Homo sapiens: one gene and its partner. The protein of the gene in region 1 interacts with the protein of each later gene in a pairwise test. Each region holds a gene or a part of one and is shown in the gene's direction. Other genes may lie near its edges.

Evidence for each region. The genes of interacting proteins can lie anywhere in the genome.
Region 2: the proteins of SGTA (region 1) and TNFSF12-TNFSF13 interact in binary tests that used the Homo sapiens proteins (3 or more experiments, as listed by UniProt).

Annotation. Positions count from the first base shown.
Region 1 is NC_000019.10:2,766,264-2,773,300, reverse strand, and holds part of SGTA (small glutamine-rich tetratricopeptide repeat-containing protein alpha), read left to right. Parts: intron 1-4,209; 5' UTR 4,210-4,232; coding exon 4,233-4,332; intron 4,333-5,614; coding exon 5,615-5,721; intron 5,722-6,080; coding exon 6,081-6,165; intron 6,166-7,037. UniProt on the Homo sapiens protein: Co-chaperone that binds misfolded and hydrophobic patches-containing client proteins in the cytosol. Mediates their targeting to the endoplasmic reticulum but also regulates their sorting to the proteasome when targeting fails.
Region 2 is NC_000017.11:7,552,056-7,559,092, forward strand, and holds part of TNFSF12-TNFSF13 (TNFSF12-TNFSF13 protein), read left to right. Parts: intron 1-1,531; exon of another isoform or gene 1,532-1,770; intron 1,771-4,722; coding exon 4,723-4,847; intron 4,848-5,043; coding exon of another isoform or gene 5,044-5,295; exon of another isoform or gene 5,296-5,826; intron 5,827-6,226; exon of another isoform or gene 6,227-6,320; intron 6,321-6,694; exon of another isoform or gene 6,695-6,984; coding exon of another isoform or gene 6,985-7,037. Other genes in the region: TNFSF12 (tumor necrosis factor ligand superfamily member 12 proprotein), read left to right, coding at 4,723-4,847, 5,044-5,295; TNFSF13 (tumor necrosis factor ligand superfamily member 13 isoform alpha precursor), read left to right, coding at 6,985-7,037. UniProt on the Homo sapiens protein: Binds to FN14 and possibly also to TNRFSF12/APO3. Weak inducer of apoptosis in some cell types. Mediates NF-kappa-B activation. Promotes angiogenesis and the proliferation of endothelial cells. Also involved in induction of inflammatory cytokines.

The DNA of each region.
Region 1 (7,037 bases):
CATCTCTGCCCTCGGTGTCCCTGCCCTGTGGCCGCGTCACCCATCTCTGCCCTCGGTGTCCCTGCCGTGTGGCCGCGTCACCCATCTCTGCCCTCGGTGTCCCTGCCGTGTGGCCGCGTCACCCACCTCTGCCCTCGGAGTCCCTGCCGTGTGGCCGCGTCACCCACCTCTGCCCTCGGTGTCCCTGCCGTGTGGCCGCGTCACCCACCTCTGCCCTCGGTGTCCCTGCCGTGTGGCCGCGTCACCCATCTCTGCCCTCGGTGTCCCTGCCGTGTGGCCGCGTCACCCACCTCTGCCCTCGGAGTCCCTGCCGTGTGGCTGCGTCACCCACCTCTGCCCTCGGTGTCCCTGCCGTGTGGCCGCGTCACCCACCTCTGCCCTCGGTGTCCCTGCCCTGTGGCCGCGTCACCCATTTCTGCCCTCGGTGTCCCTGCCCTGTGGCCGCGTCACCCACCTCTGCCCTCGGTGTCCCTGCCCTGTGGCCGCGTCACCCATCTCTGCCCTCGGTGTCCCTGCCGTGTGGCCGCGTCACCCATTTCTGCCTTCACATCCACACAGTGTTCTCCCTGTGCATGCGTCTGCATCCAAATGTCCCCTTTTTATAAGGACATTGGTTATTGCTCTAGGGACCCGCCGTACACTGGTATGATGTCATCTTACCAAATTCTGTCCGCCAAGATCTTATTTCCAGGTGAGGTCGCATTCCAAGGTCCTGGCAGTTAGGACTTCAGTGTATGGATTTGGGGGACACAGTTCAGCACACGACAGTATTCAGCCCCTGGAGCCGCCTGTCAGCGTGGCTGCGCGCAGAGGGTCCCTGGGGCCCAGCTGGGGAGTGGGACCTGGCGGCAGAGACCCCTTGCACTGTGCTGGCTCAGAAGGAGGAGCCGTGGCCTCCTGGGTGCTGGGTCAGAGTTTCCTTGTAGGTGTTTGTGGCTTTAGTCACTTCTTGGAGAGCAGATCTGGGCACAGAGCAGAGAAGAATAAGAAATTATCCAGAGGCAGCTGTCACTGTAGAAGATTCCTTCAGGCCTCGCCCTTCCTCGTCCATCCCGAGGCTGGCGGCCTCTTGGCCAGGCCCTGTCTGACCCAGCCTGAATCCGAGCGTCTGATCTCAAACCTGTGCTTCTCCTCACGGTGGTTCCCCAGCTCCTGAGGCCTCAGGCCTGCCCCTTGCCTCATGCGTCTTGGCACACAGAGTGCAACTAAGAATAAGGTCCACTATGCACGGGCTGGGCCCGGCCCCGGAGGAAGGCCGGTGACACACAGCCCCGCCACCCTGTATGTCAGCCAGTGAGGGACAGAGATGGGGAAGACCCAGCTGCTCAGAGACACCAGAGGCCCTGGACAGGGAGTGGATTCCAGGGAAGGCGGCTGCCCAGCCCAGCCCGGAAGGAGCAGGTGGAGAAGGGAGGCCCAGCCAAGGGAACCTCATCGCAAGAACAGAGGATGGGGGTCCCATCCCACGGCCAGGGCCTCCCCAAGGGCTGCCCCTCCATGCGCCAGCACCACAGCAACCCCTCTCCATGCCTGCTTCTGGCCTCAGAGCAGGTTCTCCAAATGCTCCCAGTGAAACTGCACAGCCGGGCAGCGTTTCTGGAATAGCCTCAGCATGTGTTGATCTGGACACGGAGGGTGCACCAGCACCCGTCCACGTACCTGCCTGTGTGGGGGTGTTCACTCAGCGTTGTGCACGCCTGGTCTCGTACCCCTCCCCCCCCCCCCGATGGGGAGGTGCTGTCGCCATCCATGGGGGACAGAAGAGGAAACTGAGGCTCAGCAGAGTTAAGTCGCTTCCCCTAGGTCACACTGCCAAAAACAGCCAACCGAGGTCTATGCCACGAGACTCACCACGAGGAATCATGATTTTTTTTTTTTGACATGGAGTCTCACTCTGTTGCCAGGCTGGAGTGCAGTGGTGTGATCTCAGCTCACTGCAACCTCCAACTCCCTGGTTCAAGTGATTCTCCTGCCTCAGCCTCCCGAGTAGCTGGGATTACAGGCACGTGCCACCATGCCAGCTAATTTTTGTATTTTTAGTAGAGATGGGGTTTCACCGTGTTTGGCCAGGATGGTCTCTGTCTCCTGACCTCGTGATCTGCCTGCCTCGGCCTCCCAAAGTGCTGGGATTACAGGCGTGAGCCACCACGCCTGGCAGAATCGTGATATTAACAACAGATATCGCAGGGCGCCAAGCGCTGGGCTGACAGCTTCCGGGTTATTTTTTCCCCGACCCCTGACAGCAGCCACAATGGAGCTCCCCATTTTACAGACATGGAGGCGGAGGCTCAGGCCGAACAACCCGTCCGAGCTCACAGGCTTTGCAGGCCACGATCCGGGAACCGCCTGGCCTCTCCCTCACAACCCGGCTGGCTTAAAACAACCAAGATTGATTTCCCTCGCAGTTCTGGAGGCCAGAAGTCTGAGATGAAGGTGCAGGCTGGGCCACGTTCCCTCTGAAGGCCCCAAGGGAGGCTCCGTCCTGCCTCTTCCAGCTGCTGGGGGCCAGCGAGCCTCACCTCTCTTCGTGTGGCCACATGGCCTCAGCCTCTGCCTCCGTCTTCACGCGGCCGTCTCCGTGCGGCCATGTTCAATCCCTGCATTAGGGCCACCACAGCGACCTCATCTCCACTTGTTTCCATCTGCAAAGACACAGACAAGGTCCCGTGCTCAGGTCCCAGGTGGACGTGACTAGCCCAGAACTTGGCTGCTCCAGCGGCGGGGGCGGGGGCGGCTGCTTCTCCACGCAGCTTGTTACATCTGAATGTTTAGAGTCACCATCGCCAGCCTTCGGGGGAAATGGAGGCACAGTGAGGCCAAGCCTTCCTGAGCTGGCGCCTCAAGGCAGCCGGCCAGCCTGCCCCGGGGGAAGCTCACGTCGGGGCTTCCTGCTCAGAGCCGTGAAGGTCACTGTGGCCGAGGCCCCTCCAAGTTGGCCCAGGCACCCAGGAAACCTGTGTGAAAGGTCTTGTACTAAAAAAAGACCTGTCCATAGACTACAGCTCCAGATTCCAGAACAGCCTCTCCTGATGTCACCATCTGGCACCCTTTAGAGCTTTGGCAGGAAACTGCAGGGACCACAGACATGAGCAGAAGCAGCTGTCAAGTCCTGGGAATGAGGAACAAGACAGGGTATCCGAGGGGGGACCAGGCGGATGTCCGAGGGGGAACCAGGAGGGTTTCTGAGAGGGAACCAGGAGGGTGTCCGAGGGGGCATCCAGGAGGGTATCCGGGGGGGAACCAGGCGGGTGTCCGAGGGGGGCACAGGCGGGTGTCCGAGGGGGGCACAGGCGGGTGTCCGAGGGGGGAACCAGGCGGGTGTCCGAGGGGGGAACTAGGCGGGTGTCCGAGGGGGGAACCAGGCGGGTGTCCGGTGGGGGAACCAGGCTGGTGTCCGCTGGGGGAACCAGGAGGGTGTCCGGTGGGGGAACCAGGCTGGTGTCCGCTGGGGGAACCAGGAGGGTGTCCGCTGGGGGAACCAGGAGGGTGTCAGGTGGGGGAACCAGGCGGGTGTCCGAGGGGGGCACAGGAGGGTGTCCGAGGGGGAACTAGAGGGGGGTCTGAGGTGGAATGAGGTAGGTAGGCCTCCCAGGGGGAACAAGACGGGTCCCCAAGAAGTCCCTGGGGGGAGTCCTCTGCAAGTCCTGTGAAACAGTGATACCAGGGCAGGCACACCTGGCCCCGTTGGGTACCTAAGAAATGCTTGCTGACATGCCACAAAAGAGGTAAATTGAGGAAAGGGGCAGTGGCTCTGGCTGAGGACAAGGTCTCTCCCTCTCAGCACTGTGGACATTGGGGCTGGATCGTTCTCTGGAGTGGAGCTGTCCTGGGCACTGCAGGGTGCTGGGCAGCATCCCTGGCCCCCACCCACCTCATGCCAGAAGCAGGGGCGGAGGGGACCTCCGTGGCGCCTCAGTACCACCCTGGGAGTGCTCAGGAGGCCCTGGGAGCACGCGGGTTCTCTAGGGCAGGCCCTGCTTGCCTGCTGGCCTCACACTTTCTGGCTGTGTGCATAGCCGGATTGGTGAGCTCTGGGCCTCAGGTCATCATCTGTGAAATGGGCGTATTAAGGCCTTTCTACCTGGGCTGTCCTGGAGCTGAGATCAGCCAGCACCCTTAAAGTGAGGCCCAGCTAGTTAGGGGCAGGCCTGGGGTGCCTGGAGTGGGGAGTGTGAGGGGGCCTGATGGGGGTTTTTCCTGCACCCCCAGGTATCACCTCTTCTGGGCTCAAGATGGACAACAAGAAGCGCCTGGCCTACGCCATCATCCAGTTCCTGCATGACCAGCTCCGGCACGGGGGCCTCTCGTCCGATGCTCAGGAGAGCTTGGAAGGTAGGTGGGTGCCTGCCACTTCCCCCTCTCCCCGGGCAGCGGCCAGCACAGTCGCCTCGTGTAGACACCTGGTGTGTAGATGCCTGGTCCCCCGCCTGGCTTTTTGGGGGTGGAAGCTAAGCCCAGAGAGGGCAGGGGTCTGCCCAGGGCCACACAGCCCCCGGCCGTGGGAGCCAGGGCCGAGCTGAGCCCTCCCGCCTGCCACTGCGTGGCGCCACCACTGCTTGATGCCTTCAGGCTGAGCTGCCTTCCAGTGGCTTTTTTCCATCTCCCCATCTTCCACCAAGGTGTGTTCTGGAATGTTCTCACCACCCAGTGTGTGTGTGTCACCATCGGTCACGGGGAAAAAGCTCTCCTAGTGCTGGCCCCGCCCCAGAGTCCCAGACTCGTTGGCATCCTGCATGGCCTGTCCGCTCCCCAGGTGCCTTGGTCTCCTGGCTGGTCTTGCTTGCGCTTCTGCGACACCTGGATCCGGGGCTCGGAGGGAAAGGAGGGCTCGGGGAGGCACCCTCGTGTGGCTGCAGGTTCTGCTCTAGGTCCTCCTTCCCCACCTATGCCTCGCTCACCTGTGTCCTGGGCCTGCCAGGCCTCTGTAGCATGGACACCCAGTGACAGCTGTAGGGATGTGCCCGGGGTCCTTGACACAGTGCTGGGCAGGAAGTGGCTGACCCCCACTTCTGACCTGGGTTAGGACCCTGGGTCCACACGAGGAGGCGGCCAGGGCTAGTGTTGTCTGGCTCGGTGGGAGGGCCCCCTGGGTGCTGAGTCTGTCAGGTGGGCCAGCAGAGAGAGGGGCCCTGTGGCTGTTTCTTGTCCTGCTCTCAATGGTCCTGCCCTGGTACAGACCCAGTCATACAGGCCTTCTACTGGGGGCTGGCTTCAAGCTCCTTACTCAGGCCAGGCGCCCTTGGAGGTGCAACAGCATCCGGGGCACCTCACCCCTGACGTGGCCCTCCAGGTGGGGCCAAGCCCCCACCACGCCGCAGCCGGGCAGCCCCAGCATTGGGACCCCACAGAGGCCTGAGGTCACCACCTGGGCTCCACTCTGCCCACGGCCTCTGCTGCTCTCAGGGGCACGGGGCGTCTCTGTCTGGCTTTTCTTTTCGGGAAGGAAGAGGGTCCACTGTCCCAGCCCAGAGCACAGGCGGCGGCCCCTGCGTTCTGGGGTCCTTGGGAATGAACACACCTGGGGAAGCATGAGCACCAACCCCGCCCTCTAGACCCAAAAACGTAACCTCGGGGCTGCGTGCAATGAATGGGACCGCCTCTGTCCCCGCTTCAGTCGCCATCCAGTGCCTGGAGACTGCGTTTGGGGTGACGGTAGAAGACAGTGACCTTGCGCTCCCTCAGACTCTGCCGGAGATATTTGAAGCGGCTGCCACGGGCAAGGTGAGCCTCGATGCTTCCCCAGCCACTGCCCCCAAAATAAGAACAGCAACAGCAGGCAGCCCTGGGGACCCCAGGAGCCCCGCTCTCATCGTCCCCCAGCACTCTGCCTGCATCCTCTCCTGGGCTGGGGACGTGGCTGCAGGAGCACTTGGCCCTCCTCCCCCTATCGGCGGGTCCTGAGACACATAGCGCTGTGGTCACTCGCCCAGGGCCACATGATGGGGGGCCAGGAGTCCCCTGCAGAGCCCCCGGGTCCTTCGGAACTTGGTGGCCCTCTCTGGCGTCCCGAGGGAAGCTAAGGCCGGAGGGTGCCAGGTTGGGAGGAGAGGACAGCGGGCCGCCTTTGCCTCCGGGTCCAGGAGATGCCGCAGGACCTGAGGAGCCCCGCGCGAACCCCGCCTTCCGAGGAGGACTCAGCAGAGGCAGAGCGCCTCAAAACCGAAGGTAAGGGAGGACCTCCATCCCCACAGACACCTCGCCCTACCTGGACTCCGGGGCTGTGGGACCCTCGCAGAGGCCAGCTGGTCCCTGGGGCCCAGGGAGCTGAGGGAATTGCCCTGATGACCAGCACGCTGGCTTGTGGGGACGGGGACGGAAGGGGGACTGGCGAGGGGACTGGCGAGGTGCAGAGAAACTTGACCTTCAGGCACAGCACGGCTGGTGGGGTTGTCGGGAGCGGCCCCTGTGGAAGACTGGCTGGTGGCCCCCAAAAGTTGCACAGCTTCCATGAGACCCGCCGGTTCCACCCTGATACTAGATATGTGCCCAAGAGAGACACATGTCCACCAAAACCCAGACACATGTTCACAGCAGCTGTATTCACAAGAGTCAAAAAGCAAGAAGAGGCCGGGCGCGGTGGCTCACACCTGCAGTCCCAGCTCTTTGGGAGGCCGAGGCGGGCAGATTGCCTGAGGTCAGGAGTTCAAGCCTAGCCTGGGCCAACATGGTGAAACCCCGTCTCTACTAAAAATGCAAAAAAATTAGCCAGGTGCAGTGGTGGGCACCTGTAATCCCAACTACTCAGGAGGCTGAGGCAGGAGAGTTGCTTGAACCTGGGAGGCGGAGGTTGCAGTGAGTCCAGATCGCGCCACTGCACTCCAGCCTGGGCGATAAGAGTGAAACTCCGTCTCAAAAAAAAATAAAAAATAAAAAATAAAACAATAAAAAGAAGCAAAAACAGCTTAAATGCCTGTCCACGCTAAATGGTCAGCACAGCATGGCCCATCTACACGGTGGAATGTGGATGGGTGAGGCTCTGACCCAGGCCCCAGCGCAGATGCACCGTGAAGACATCACACTCAGGGAGAGAGGCCAGA
Region 2 (7,037 bases), on another chromosome or scaffold:
GATTACAGGCATGAGCCACTGCACCCAGCCAGCTTCTAGATTTTTAACTTGGGTATCTCTGGGAAGAATGATGCCATTTCCTAAGAAGGGATTGACCAAGGAATAAATAGGTTGGGAAGTATGTAAGATAATTATTAACGTTGAGAAGTCTAAAATAAACAAGCGGATAAATGACAATAAAGTAAATTCCAGAAATGGATGGCTGGACATTGTCGACTAGCTTAGGCTAGGTCAGGACGGATAAAGCCAGGAGTCATGGCCATATGGATGGCTTTTTTTTTTTTTTTTTTGAGACAGAGTCTCGCTCTGTCACCCAGGCTGGAGTGCAGTGGTTCGATCTTGGCTCACTGCAACATCTGCCTCCTGGGTCCAAGCGATTCTCCTGTCTCAGCCTCCCAAGTAGCTGAGATTATAGGCGGGTGCCACCACACCCAGCTCATTTTTGTATTTTTTAGTAGAGACAGGGTTTCACCGTGTTGGCCAGGCTGGTCTTGAACTCCTGATCTCAGGTGATCCGCCAGCCTCAGCCTCCCAAAGTGCTGGGATTACAGGTGTGAGCCCTTGTGCCCGGCCTATCGATGGCATTTAAAGCCACAGGATTGGGTGAGACGCCAGGAGAAAGAAGGGCCCCACGAATGAAGCCCTGAGACTCTTGGGCATCTTGAAGTGGAGCTGAGGGGAAAACCAGCAGAGACTGAAAAGAAGCTGGAGAGAGAGGAAGAAACCCAGGGAGGGTGGCATCCTGGATTCGGAGAAACCACTGTTTCAAGGAGGATGTGGCTGTCTGTGTTGAATGCAGCTGAGAGATCACATGAAATGAGAACAGAGAAATGATGGCTGGGTTTGGTAACGTGAAAGTCCTGCTGACCTTAAAGAGGGTGGTTTCAGTGGCATAGTTAGAACAGGAAGGCAGTGTGCATTGGGTTGAGAAGAAAATGAGAAATAAGGAACTGGAGGCAGGGACAACCTTTTTTTTTTTTTTTTTTTTTTTTTTTTTTTTTTTTTTTGTGACAGAGTTTCACTCTTGTCACCCAGGCTGGATCCAGTGCAATGGCACGATCTCGGCTGACCGTAACCTCCACCTCCCGGGTTCAAGCAATTCTCCTGCCTCAGCCTCCCCAGTAGCTGAGATTACAGGCATGCGCCACCACGCCTGGCTAATTTTGTATTTTTAGTAGAGACAGGGTTTCTCCATGTTGGTCAGGCTGGTCTCAAACTCCCGACCTCAGGTGTTCCACCCGCTTCGGCCTCCCAAAGTGCTGGGATTACAAGCATGAGCCACTGCACCCGGCCTAGGACAACCCTTTTTAGAAGTTTCTCTGTAACAAGGAGCAGAGAAATAGGCCAGTAGGTGGAGGGGTGTGTGGACCAAGGAAAAGTTTAGTTCTGTGAACAATACTATTTTCATCTGATCTAACATGTACTGAGGGCTTTCTTGAGATAGGCACTGTGTCTGGCACTTGTGTTTGGTCTTATCTAATCCTCACAACAGCCCTAAAAGGAAGATACTCTAATTACCTCCATTTTACAGATGGAGGTTACACAACTTGTCTGAGGCCATGAGATACTAAGTGGTGGAGCCAAGATTTGAACCCAGCTAGAATGTGCCTGTGTACTGGACATGGTCTGCATGAAAGGCGAGGTGGCTGGTGCAGGGGTGAGGGGTCCATGCAGGGGCCACATCCAAAAAGGGGAGAGGGAAGTTTCCAGAAAGAAGAGAGGACACATCTCCCACCATTACCAGAGGGTCAAAGGAGAACAAGAGACCAGGTGGGTTTGTAGATTTGCTGGGGGGAGATGAGGGAACCTTTGCTCGATGACTTCTAGGTCCTCTGGACAACTAGGGAGATGGAGACAGGAGATTTGAGGAGAAATGGTACAAAATCTCAACTTGCTGATTATGAAAGCAAGCTTCGTGGGGGAATGTAAGATTGCCAGGCAGGACGGAATGTCCAGGTGAGGTTTGTGGCTGGAGACAAGTGATATACCAGGCAAGCCCTCCGTGCTCCTGGGCACACCATGCCCTTAGGCTACAAGCAGCCTTTGCTTAGGCTGGCTTCGTAGCTAGGAATGCCCTCTCTTCTCTGCCCTCCCTACTCTTCATGCCCAGATCAGCCTTCCTCCCCTCTGTATAGACCACTTATTTTGGCAATTATCCAGACATTCATTCATTCATTGACTCAACAGGCATTGAAGACCTACTGTTTGCTAGGGGCCAGGCTAGGTGCCCACAGCAACTAATATCCAGACTCTTTTTTTTTTTTTTTTTTTTTTTTGAGATGGAGTCTCACTCTGTCGCCCAGGCTGGAGTGTAGTGGCGCGATCTCGGCTTACTGCAAGCTCCGCCTCCTGGGTTCATGCCATTCTCCTGCCTCAGCCTCCCAAGTAGCTGGGACTACAGGCGCCCGCCACCACGCCTGGCTAATTTTTTTTTATTTTTTAGTAGAGACGGGGTTTCACCGTGTTAGCCAGGATGGTCTCGATCTCCTGACCTCGTGATCCACCCAACTCGGCCTCCCAAAGTGCTGGGATTACAGGCGTGAGCCACCGCGCCCAGCCGGTCAGACCCATTTTTTTTTTTGAGATGGAGTTTTGCTCTTGTTGCCCCAGCTGGAGTGCAGTGGCGCCATCTCGGCTCACTGCAGCCTTCTCGGGTTCAAGTGATTCTCCTGCCTCAGTCTCCCGAGTAGCTGGGACTACAGGCGCCTGCCACCACGCCTGGCTAATTTTTTTTTTATGTTTTAGTAGAGACGGGGTTTCACCGTGTTAGCCAGGAGCGTCTCGATCTCCTGACCTCGTGATCCACCCACCTTGGCCTCCCAAGGTGCTGGGATTACAGGCGTGAGCCACTGTGCCCAGCCTCAGACCAACTCTTAAGGAGTCACTGTCTAGGAGAGGAAACAAGCATATAAATTTGTAATTACAGGAACATACAAAAAAAATTAGCCAGGTTTGGTGGCACATGCCTGTAATCCCAGCTACTCAGGAGGCTGAAGCATGAGAATCACTTGAACCCGGGAGGCGGAGGCTGCAGTGAGCCGAGATTGTGCCACTGCACTCCAGCCTGGGTGACAAGAGTGAGACTCCATCTCAAAAAAAAATTTGTAATTACAGTGGAATATGACAAGAACAATAATAAAAGTGGCCAAGATACCTGGCAACACAGGGGAAGACAGACATGGCTGTGGAGTCAGGGATTCTCTCCCTGCATCGCAAGGTGCCGCTGGGCCTTGAAGCAGGAGCGTAAGACAAGACAGGCAAGGGGTCAAGAATGGTGGGTGCAAGCAGAAGCAGCCCCTGGGGCAAAAGCCCCGGGTTTGCCCAGAGCATGATGAGGCTGGGGGACTCTAAGTTCAGCGTGGCAGAAGCAGAAAGTGCTAGAGGAGCGAGATGGGGATGAGGCTGGAGACAGAAGCCAGGCCACACGGTGGCATGTGGGAACTATTCTGAGGTGAGCCATCGGAAGGAGGAAGGCGAGGCGAGGCGGGCTTACGTCTGCATCTTAGAGACTCATTCTGTGGCTTTGTGTAGGGAATAAACTGGAGGAAGCCAGAATGGAAACAGGGAATGCTGTGAAAACCAGACAGAGGCACCAGATGGGGGAGAGAGGGGAGAGAGCTATTTAGGAGGCAGGATAGATAGGAACTGGTGATCGATTAATGATGTAGGTAAAGGAGAGGGAGGCTTGAATATCCCCCTGGTGGCAAAACCAGAAGCCAAATGTGGAAAACAGACAGTAAAGCAAGAGTGGGATGAGGGGGGTCAGCTCAGTGTTGGTTGAGATGAGTTTGAGGGGCTATTGCTGTTCAGATGGTGCAGTTGGCAGGGTAAGGAAGGGAAGGAAACTTCAGGGCTGGAGACTCTGCAGAGCACAGGTTGTGGGAACCCATTGGTGGAAATAAAAATGCCCAGTGAGCGTTTTTTTTGTTTTTTTTTTTTTTTGGAGACAGAGTCTAGCTCTGTTGCCCAGGCTGGAGTGCAGTGGCATGATCTTGGTTCACTGCAACCTCCCCATCCCAGGTTCAAGTAATTCTCCTGCCTCAGCCTCCCATGTAGCTAGGATTACAGGTGCCTGCCACCATGCCCTGCTAGTTTTTGTATTTTTAGTAGAGACGGGGTTTCACCTTGTTGGCCAGGCTGGTCTCGAACTCCCGACCTCAGGTGATCCGCCCACCTTGGCCTCTCAAAATGCCGGGATGACAGGCGTGAGCCACTGCACCTGGCTGAGCATGATGTTTTCAAGGCACATCTGTGCCATAGTGTGTATCAGTACTTCACTCTTTTTATGGCCAAATAATATTCCATTATATGGATAGACATTTTGTTGATGGACAATTGGGTTTCATTTTATTATTTTTAGTTGTACTAATTCAGATAATGTATGTTTACATCCTCCATATAAAAGAAGCAAATAATATAGATATCCATGAAGTAAAACATTAAATCCCCTCACGCTTCTCCTTCAGTTCTACTCTTCTCCCCAGAAGTGACTGCAGGTGACAATCTGCCCTGAATGTCTCTGGCCATATACATTAGATTTTTTCACATAACTTCCTAGTCAACTATGGGCATCATAGGGGATGGGTCCTCCCTTGCCCGGGGTGATCTATGTGTCTTCTGGGTAAAGTGGGCGCCGAATGTTCATATGCTCAATGGATCCCTGGGGAGTGTGGGGGAGTCCTGTAGAGAGACGTTTCCTTATCTCTGAGCATCCGTGTTCAGGTGTGGACGGGACAGTGAGTGGCTGGGAGGAAGCCAGAATCAACAGCTCCAGCCCTCTGCGCTACAACCGCCAGATCGGGGAGTTTATAGTCACCCGGGCTGGGCTCTACTACCTGTACTGTCAGGTAAGCCCCATCTGGCTGCATGGGTAACGCAGTAAGAGAGTGGCGAAGGGTTTGCCAGGAGAGTGGGGGACAAGCTACAGGGCTGGGAGGGTGAGTTGGGGTTTGGGTGGGATGGGATGCCTGCGTCGCTGAGGAAATTGGAAATTGAGGCGAGGGCAGGCAGAGGCCTGGACTCGGCCTGTTGTCCCCACCCCAGGTGCACTTTGATGAGGGGAAGGCTGTCTACCTGAAGCTGGACTTGCTGGTGGATGGTGTGCTGGCCCTGCGCTGCCTGGAGGAATTCTCAGCCACTGCGGCGAGTTCCCTCGGGCCCCAGCTCCGCCTCTGCCAGGTGTCTGGGCTGTTGGCCCTGCGGCCAGGGTCCTCCCTGCGGATCCGCACCCTCCCCTGGGCCCATCTCAAGGCTGCCCCCTTCCTCACCTACTTCGGACTCTTCCAGGTTCACTGAGGGGCCCTGGTCTCCCCGCAGTCGTCCCAGGCTGCCGGCTCCCCTCGACAGCTCTCTGGGCACCCGGTCCCCTCTGCCCCACCCTCAGCCGCTCTTTGCTCCAGACCTGCCCCTCCCTCTAGAGGCTGCCTGGGCCTGTTCACGTGTTTTCCATCCCACATAAATACAGTATTCCCACTCTTATCTTACAACTCCCCCACCGCCCACTCTCCACCTCACTAGCTCCCCAATCCCTGACCCTTTGAGGCCCCCAGTGATCTCGACTCCCCCCTGGCCACAGACCCCCAGGGCATTGTGTTCACTGTACTCTGTGGGCAAGGATGGGTCCAGAAGACCCCACTTCAGGCACTAAGAGGGGCTGGACCTGGCGGCAGGAAGCCAAAGAGACTGGGCCTAGGCCAGGAGTTCCCAAATGTGAGGGGCGAGAAACAAGACAAGCTCCTCCCTTGAGAATTCCCTGTGGATTTTTAAAACAGATATTATTTTTATTATTATTGTGACAAAATGTTGATAAATGGATATTAAATAGAATAAGTCATAGTCTCTCTCTTTATTGGGGCTCAGGGGACACTCTCAGGGTAGCTGGGGGCCACGTGAAGGGGGGCGTTGCGGAGCGGCACAGCTGGAACTCCGGGATGATGTTCAGGCTTGGGGGCGGGGACCTCCATGCCTCCAGCCCCCAGGTGGGAGCAGAGGTAGGAAGGCACACTGCCCAGGAAAAAAATCAATCCTCCGCCCAAGGTACAGCAGAAGCGGCCTCCTTGGCCTAGGAGGCAGACTTCCTCCTGCGGGGAAATCCCTTCCTGGCTGGGAGGAGCAGGGGCCCTTCCTCTTGGTGGCCTCGGACATTCAGCAGGTGCTGGCACAGGCCCTGGCTGGGAGGTGGGGCGGGCAGGAGCCAGCCTGGAGGAGGGGCTGAGAGTCAGCAGGCACACGGGAACCCGGAACCCTGTGTGCTGGGGAGGAATCCCGCAGTGGCCGGGGGGCTTGAGGCCGCTGCTTTGTCTCTTCGTCCAGAGCCTTATGTAAGAGCTTTTCTCGGGAAACAGGAAGTCCTGCTTGCCAATTTCAGCACAGGGAGTAGTGCAGGCCTTATTCCAACACACCCGGCCCAGCCTTAACCCCAGAACTCAGCCAGTTTCTTGCTTCCGTGCCCCTGGTTCTCCTCCCCATCGAGCCCACCCCTCCTTTCCCACCTTCAGTCACCCCTAGTGAACTGCCCCAGCGATCTCTGCTGTGCTTGACCCCGAGGGTCTTCCACCCTCGCCCTGACCCTGGACACTGCCCAGCTTGGCCCCCCATCCTGCTCCTGGCACAATGCCCTCTAGCCAGCCAACCTTCCCTCCCCCAACCCTGGGGCCGCCCCAGGGTTCCTGCGCACTGCCTGTTCCTCCTGGGTGTCACTGGCAGCCCTGTCCTTCCTAGAGGGACTGGAACCTAATTCTCCTGAGGCTGAGGGAGGGTGGAGGGTCTCAAGGCAACGCTGGCCCCACGACGGAGTGCCAGGAGCACTAACAGTACCCTTAGCTTGCTTTCCTCCTCCCTCCTTTTTATTTTCAAGTTCCTTTTTATTTCTCCTTGCGTAACAACCTTCTTCCCTTCTGCACCACTGCCCGTACCCTTACCCGCCCCGCCACCTCCTTGCTACCCCACTCTTGAAACCACAGCTGTTGGCAGGGTCCCCAGCTCATGCCAGCCTCATCTCCTTTCTTGCTAGCCCCCAAAGGGCCTCCAGGCAACAT